2 separate regions of the Homo sapiens genome follow, and region 2 is reported to be linked to region 1. The links are microRNA targets in miRTarBase. Many come from high-throughput screens and were not tested one by one. Region 1 holds a microRNA gene; the other region holds the end of a gene's coding sequence.
The links. The annotated mature microRNA hsa-miR-942-3p reads CACAUGGCCGAAACAGAGAAGU and lies in region 1 at 2,018-2,039, shown strand. An mRNA with a match to its seed (bases 2 to 7 or 8) in the 3' UTR can be bound and repressed. Matches are read on the target gene's strand: a 7mer-m8 pairs with bases 2 to 8, a 7mer-A1 pairs with bases 2 to 7 and ends in A, and an 8mer does both.

Region 1 (4,068 bases):
CAAGGTTTGCTCCCTTGACTCCCAGCTGCTCCTGTCCTTTTTTGTCTGTTCAGGCCCTGGATCCAATGGAACTGAAGGGTGAAGGTCTTGTCCTTTCCCTGGAAGAACAGCTCAGTGCTTTGACCTTGTCAGAACTCCGTGACTCAGAGCCATCTTCCACTGTTTCCCTTAACGGCACCTTCTTCAAGATGGAGCTTTTTGAAGGCATGCGAGAGAGCACCAAGGTACTTTTTGTCTCCTCTGTAGTAGTCGAGAGACTTCGATTCCTCACACATTTTCCTGTGTGACAGCACTTCATTTGTCCAAGTGGGAACAGCCATTTGCCAGCAGAGCTAGAGCCGTTAAATTCTAGCTGATCAGATTCTCCCTCCAGTCTTAAAGCTTCATTTATTTCACAGATAACACTAAAGCCTTACTACATAGGGGACTTTGAGAGAGTAATTTGGGACAACCCCAGCATTGCACTGAAGTGGGTTTTCTGTCATGGGTCACTGGGGAGCTTGCCAGGTTTGTGCTAGGGACGGGGCCTATGCAAGTGAGCAATTTGTTTAGAGAAAGCTTAAAAGGAAAACAAAGGCTTGACTCTAGAGACTGTGTCATACATGCGAGCGCCAATTGCTCTGACTTTGAAAGGCTTCCACATGTGAGTAGTGTTTCCTACATAGCCTTCTGTCTTCATTAGTCATTCTGCTCTGTTTTCGTCAGAGCTTTTTAAGGCAGAAACATTCTGCTGGAGGAAGGCTTAGATATGCCGTAACCTGAATCCTGCCTGTCTGCTGGCTCGGAATGTGCTTCATCATCCTGCCTGTCTTGAAAGTGAGGCTTGTTTCTCTCTTAGCATCTCAAGCTGCCGTTCTTGGGCTCAACCTCTCTTCAAAGGCTTTTTTTGAAAAAGTGTATTAATAACTAGAAAGGTCACTTCCAGGGGAATGGCATTATTTTTTAAAAGGAATGCTGCCTTTTAATTAAAATTTGAAAACATTTACCTAGGTCTTTACCACTGATAGCTGAGAGAAACATAAGAAGAGCATCCCATGTGGCCAGAACACACATGCTAGTGCCTTCAGAGTGAGCTATTGGGCTAAAATTTAAATTCCTAATCATTTGTGTTCCTTGTTTAATTAAATGCAGGTAATATTTATTCACAAGTTTTCTTAACATATGTCCATTAATAGTTCAAACCACATACGGTTGTTTCAAGTAGGGAAGGAGGCTTCTTACTGGAATTTGACCCCGGCTCGTGGGCCATAAATCCAGCCCTCCTGCTGCAGTTTTCTCAAAACACCATGGCTAGCTTTTTCATGTGGGAGTCACAGCGCCTTCCACAATCTCAAGTTGCCAAGACACCAGGCACATCAGTGTCTCTGTTCTATTGTTAACTAAATAACAGATGTAGCTGCTTTTCTGTCTGCTAATTTGAATGGTACAGTTCTGTGACTCACTTCCTGCCTAGGCACCAGAATGTTTGTTAAGATTGGAAAGCAGCCCCATGTGGTGACCACTGTAATGACATCCTAGAATGTGGGAGCTCAGGGCACCTCAGAATTTATCTGGCCTAAGTCCTTCTTTTCACTGATGAGGAATCTGAGTCCCAAAGTGGTCCAGCCATATGAGGACAGAGGAAGAACTTCTGTATATTTGTCTCCTGATTGACTTACAGCCCAGTTTTCTTCCTTCTCCAGCATTCTGGGGGTGAACTCTGGGGCCCTTAGAGGCTCTTGAAAGGTTTTTCACATGAGCAGCTGGGAAGAATGAGCCCAGCTGCACTCCAAAGTCATGCCCCACGTGTTCTTACTGACAGCTCCCCTGTGGACTCAAGTGCACCCTAAGGGTTCTTGGGGAATACCCAGGGAGCCTGTTCGGAAGCTTTAACAATGGTTCCTCCGTCTGGACAGGTCCTTTTCAACAACATTTGGAGCAGGCCATAAAGTGGGTAAAGCTCTTTCACTTTCTTCTTCAGCAAACATTAGGAGAGTATCTTCTCTGTTTTGGCCATGTGTGTACTCACAGCCCCTCACACATGGCCGAAACAGAGAAGTTACTTTCCTAATATTTGCCTCCTTGGAGTGTCTCAAGTCCTGGAAGCAAGAGATAATAAGCAATTAATATACAGTATGACAAGGACCGTGATAATAGAAACAAAAGGTGCTATGATAGTACTTGGGCAGTGGGCACCTAACCTGTACTTTGGGGGTTGGGAGGACCTCCAAGAAGAAGTGACATTAAGCTGACACAAAAGGGTGTTCTAGGCAGAGGGAGCAGAATGGACAAGATGGCCAGTGTGTGATTTATGGGAAGAATTTTGGTGTGCTTGCTGTGTCGTTTGAGGAGGGCATGGTGAGAAACGAACCCAGAGAAGCAGAGGCTGGAGCAGCAAGAATCCGGCAAGCTGCCTTGAGGAGCTTGGCCTTTATCCTCAGTGGGAAGCTATGGAAGGGCTTTAGCCAGAGGGGTGAAGTGACAAACTCACATTTTAGAAAGAGCTTTCTGGCTGCAGAGAGGAGGGTGGAATAAAGACAGGTGAGGCCAGAGCACAGACGCCATGTAGGAGGCTGCTTCGCATGGCAGGTGAGGGGAGATGGAGAAAAGTGAATTGCTTAAACATACAATGTTGATGTAACCTTTTCCCAGATTTCATCTCTGTTGGCAGAATTGGAGGCAATTCAAAGAAATTCAGCATCCCAAAAGAGGTAACTGCGTTTTCTCATTATCCAAGTATTGGTCATAATTATGTGAGAAAATTTGATATTGCCAAGAGTTATAAATCAAGGACTGTGAGTCATGCTCAGCAGAAAGCACTGAGGTTATAGCACACATTCCCTGTGATTTCTAATTAAAATATTTGTGGTACAAATTGAAAAGGAGATCCCTAGAGGATCAGGGTAAGCGAAGCATCTGAAAAAGTGTTTAAAAGTAGAGAAGCATATAAAGAAAAGCAAGCGAGTGAGGAGGCTCCAGCAGTGCTGATAACGTTCTTAAGCTGAGTACTTGGATACAAGGACTCATTTGTTATACCTGACATATGTGCTATACACCTGCATTATTTATAAAATAATTCAATATAAAAATTTAGAACTCGAATTAAGACAGCGTGGGGGCAGGGAGGAGCCTGTTGTTCTGGCTGGCACAAGAAGGGTGGTCAGTGTGTCCCTTTTGTGCAGGACCACAGATTTCTGGATGAGCACTAGGACCCCAAATGAAAGAAGGCTGGAGTCATCACTTTACTCTAGCTACCATTTTTTTCTGACTTCATTTAGCACTAAATAAATTGTAGAAAGGACCTAGAAATAACTGGAAGCATTATAATCTTCAGATATGACCTAAATGTGTGCCTTCTCCCTTAGGTAGCAGAAGGCCTTTCCTTGTCAACATTTGATAGCTAACCTTAAGAATGATGAGGGCATTAAAGCCCTGCAGATGAGTCTGTTTAATCTATGTTAGGGTATTTTTTTATTTTATTCTTCTTTCCAGTGTCATTGTCTCTCAGTGGACCAACATGCTGAAAGTTGTAGCATTGCACCTGAAGAAGCATGGACTGACTTATGCCACCATCGATGGCTCTGTCAATCCCAAGCAGAGAATGGACTTGGTAGAGGCATTTAACCACTCCAGAGGCCCTCAGGTACAAGCTGGTCACATCAGAGCCGCATAATTAACTGTTCTGAGTTATACAAAGAGAATTCTTTTTGTTTGGTTGGTTTTTGTTTTTGTCTTTTTGAGACGGAGTTTTGCTCTTGTTGCCCAGGCTGGACTGCAATAGTGCTATCTTGGCTCACCGCAACCTCCGCCTCCCGGGTTCAAGCGATTCTCCTGCCTCAGCCTTTCAAGTAGCTGGGATTACAGGCTCCTGCCACCAAGCTTGGCTAATTTTTGTATTTTCAGTAGAGATGAGGTTTCACCATGTTGGCCAGGCTGGTCTTGAACTCCTGACCTCAGGTGATCCACCTGCCTTGGCCTCCCAAAGTGCTGGGGTTACAGGCGTAAGCCACCGTGCCCAGCCATATAAAGAGAATTCTGATATGGCAACTTAAAAATATTTACAGCCTTGATTCCTCCGAGTGTTTAGAA
Region 2 (4,068 bases), not on the chromosome of region 1:
GGGCTGGGTCTGATGAGAGCTCAGAGTGCAAAAGAAATGCTTTCCTTCTTGGCCCTTTCAAATCTCACCCCAGCACTGAACAAGGTCTAACCTTTGAATTTCAGATGTTAGAAATGTGGAAAGATGATCCAATTATAATAAGAGGAATGAAGTGAATTCTCCTGAGGTGGTGGAAATAGCTCAGGAACAGAAACCAAGAGATCTGAGTTTTTGTCCCAGTTCTGCCACTTGTGAGTCGATTAACCTTAGGCAAGTTAATTCACCTCTGGGCTGGTTACTGAGGGTACTGGCCAGAGGCTCCATAAGTCCCTTCCCCAGTGCCCTTTTGGGACTGTGCAGAACCCAGAGAGCCCTCAGTAACAAAACGGTACTCAAGCCTGCCTTCCACTGAAACCCTGGCTCCTGGAATACTCCCCTCACCAGCCATAATGCCATTACTGTCCCTTCCAGCTGCAGTCCAGCTGGAACCCAGTCTAGAGCCCGTTCTCAATTTCAGAAATGCCCCAAATCACGAAGAAGTGATGCGTGTTGGGCATATTCAGTCTCTGGTGGTCCGAAGGGCAATTATAGTCAAGAAACAAGTTGCACTTGCTGTGCCTGCGGCAGCCGGTACTCTGCAGAAAGGAAACCACCAAACCAAACCTATTATCCAAGTCACTGTGTCCACTGTTTTTGCAGAGTAATATTATCTGAGATAACTTCACAGTCAAGCTCTGATTGAATTGTTAGCAATGGCTTTATTTGCTGCTTTGTCAGGGCAAGAGAGTAACCGCTAGATGAGACTAAGTCAGCTTTCCACAAACATATTTTTGCAGTGTGTTAGCATTTGTGAAGAGGTAAACGTATTTTCTGGAAACAGAGTATACTTGCAGTTTTGTTCCTGACCAACAGTAGACCAATCAGCTGAGGTCTGAACCCTAATTATGTACCAGAATCGCCTTGAGTGCTTGTTAGCACAATTCTTGGGCCTCAGGAATCCACTGAGACTTTCTCAAAAGTTCCCCTAGAGACTAACTACTAGCATTTTATTCAATTTCTGGAGTGAGTTCTGGATGCTTACATCACATCCCTTTGTACTGTTTGAAATCCTTCCCACAGAAGACACCTCACACACGCACAACAGTGCCACACTTAAGCCAACACCACAGGAAAAATCTCCTTCTAAAACTCCTTGACCAAATATCTTGCTTTACCTACATGGCTGACTTTTGAGTACGGCAGTCTTGGGCTTATGGCACTTCCCTGGAGGCCTGTTAATCACAATCACTAGCAGGACACAGTGGCTCACACCTGTAATCACAGCACTTTAGGAGGCCAAGGCAGGAGGCTTGCTGGAGCCCAAGAGTTCAAGGATGCAGTGAGTTATGATTGCACCACTGCACTCTAGCCTGGGGGAAAGAGTGAGACCCTGTCTCAAAAAACAAAACCCACACTAAAAGCATTGCTACAAAGTAAAGAAACAAGCAATTCAGGATGAATGACAAGCAGCCAGCACTATTTTCTAGACAATTCCAAAATATTTTGATTAAAGCATAATCTTGTCTCACAAACACCTGGCATGTGGATCAACATTAAAATGTTCCCCACCCTAGACTGCACTTAAACCTAGTGGCATAGCCTACTACACACCTAGGCTGTATGGTAGAGCCTATTACTCCTAGACCACAAACCTGGACAGCACGTTACTATACTGAATACTGTCGGCAACTGTAACACAATGGTATTTGTGTATCTAATTACAGTAGAAAATACATTATAATTGTATGGGACCACCATAGTATATGCAGTCTTTGACATGTAATAATGCACAGCTGTGTATCAAAATGCTAACCATGTGATGGCATGTGGTAGGACAATGTATAATTTCCCTTTTCTCTATTTTCTAAATTTTAAATGTGAATTTATAATTTTGTATAATATTTATTACACTTATAGTGTAATAAACATTGAAAACGTTCCCAACTTTTACACCAACTTTCTTATTCACCAGAGGGAGTTGTGACTTTTTTTTTTTTTTTTGAGACAAGGTCTTGCTCTGTCATCCAGGCTGGAGTACAGTGGCACGATCTCAGCTCACCTCCTGGGCTCAAGTGATCCTCCCACCTCAGCATCCAAAGTAGCTGGGACTACTGACGTGCACCACCACACCCGGCTAATTTTGTTTATTTTTAGTAGATGAGATCCCACTATGTTGCCCACGCTGATTGTCAAACTCCTGGCCTCAAACTATCCTCTTGCCTCGGCCTCCCAAAATGCTGGGATTACAGGAGTGAGCCACCACACTCAGCCAACCTTAACTCTTAATTATTGGAAATACCCAAACCTCAATGCCTTACCCCATATGGAAGGCAAAATCCTGTATTCCCAATTCACACATGAAAATTACACGAGAGGTAAGTCAAAAATGCTTCCTTTATTACATAAAGCCAATACTGCTACTTCTAAGTTCAACTGTTTGTGCATCTCTATATCGTTCAAAGTGTTACGCCCGTGATATTAACAATGACCGCTTCCAAGTGTCAGTGAACAGTGGCTCCCTGTGAGTGTCATCATGGTACCTCTCCCCATTGCACACAAGTCAACAAACTGCTCTAGAAAGTTAAGTTCTCCCAGGCCCAGAGTAAACATATACTCAATATTCTTCCATACTTTATTATACCATAAGAAGCAAACTTCTGAAGGAGATACAATTAAAGATACCACAGGTGTCCTAGCTTGTCAATATTCTGTTTTATCATTTTCATTAACAAAGCAGATTACAATGTAGCCCTAATTTGCATTATAATTAGTTGTTACAAGACACTGCACATTCTCCTGAAGACACACAATGATTTCCAAGATGCCAGGTCACTCTTCCAATCAGTGAATGGCGAGCTCACTGGCAGGTGCAGGGCTACTTCCTGTATTCCAATGATGTGCCTGAAATAGCGCTTTGCAAGATGAGCGTGGATTATGTGGACACAATTTTGAGGCAATCTCCATTACACATTTGGTAGAAGACTGCCTAACTTAATCTTACTATTAGTGTATTAGTGTTGTTATATTATGAAGACATATTATATTCCATTATTCTGCTTAGCTCAAGGAAGAATAAAGAATTTGGACCAAAATTATAACCAGATTATGAGCAATTTCCTAAGCAAAAGAAACAAAGTAAATGCTGAGGTTAATAAAGATGTAATAATTCTCTTCACATGGCCTTTACTGTTTGTGAACTGTGTAATTTAAAATCCTGAGCTTAACAAAAATCTTTATAAATCAACTCATCAAAACAGGCATTTGGCCAATAAGAATTTAATTTCACATCAATAAAACTTTAGACTTTAGATTTATTTAGGGCTGTTTGCATATGTTTATAGAATAGTTTACTCTAAAAGATGACAAGACAGCTCCCCCTCAGTGAGACCCTGGCCTAAATATATTTGCTTTATTTATATAGCAAGAGGATAACATTAAACATGGAAGCTTTCAATTTGTGGCACTGAATAATCTACACAGGGCATCCTTCAAAGGCTACAATTAAGGATCCACCTAACTTTTCAGCAATACAAGCCCGATTGAGATCTTCTGGTCCATTTGCTTGACATTCATGTTTTATGCCTAGAGAGAAAAAACAACACTTCTATTTACAATTATGGCAGCAGTTTACCTCTTTCTCTAAGATAACCAAACTTTTAAAAGACCAGTTCTAATCTGGATAAACTGGGGTATATACAAACACGGAATACTACACAGTAACGAGAAAAAATAATTGTAACTACATGCATCAAGATAGATGGGCCTCACAAACAGCATTCACTGAAAGAATCCAGATTTAAAATGCATATATTCTATTATATATATAGGTATAGCATACAAAATCAGCCCACGCTAACTTACGCTGTTAGAAGCCAGGGTGCTGGCTACTTTGAGGAGGAAGGGGCAGGCAGAAGTGCTATGAATTGAAGGGAACAGCACCAGGGAGGCTTCTGGGGTGCTGGTCATTAGATTAAGAAATAACCATTATGTTCACTCTGAAAAATTCAACACATTCTACAATAATTTGTGACATACACTTTTCTAAAGATA

Region 2: the mRNA of DSTN is a reported target of hsa-miR-942-3p. Seed matches in the 3' UTR shown: 7mer-m8 at 3,193-3,199 and 8mer at 1,195-1,202.

What each region holds. Positions count from the first base shown.
Region 1 is chr1:117,092,678-117,096,745 of GRCh38, forward strand. MIR942 (microRNA 942) reads left to right here and starts at 1,966; the gene lies at 1,966-2,051. TTF2 (transcription termination factor 2) reads left to right here. Exons shown (of 23, transcript NM_003594.4): 18 at 54-224; 19 at 2,632-2,690; 20 at 3,472-3,622.
Region 2 is chr20:17,606,569-17,610,636 of GRCh38, reverse strand. DSTN (destrin, actin depolymerizing factor) reads right to left here. Exons shown (of 4, transcript NM_006870.4): 4 at 718-3,600. The coding sequence ends at 3,491. Among named protein-coding and RNA genes, the nearest start is that of DSTN, 39 kb to the right of the region's middle.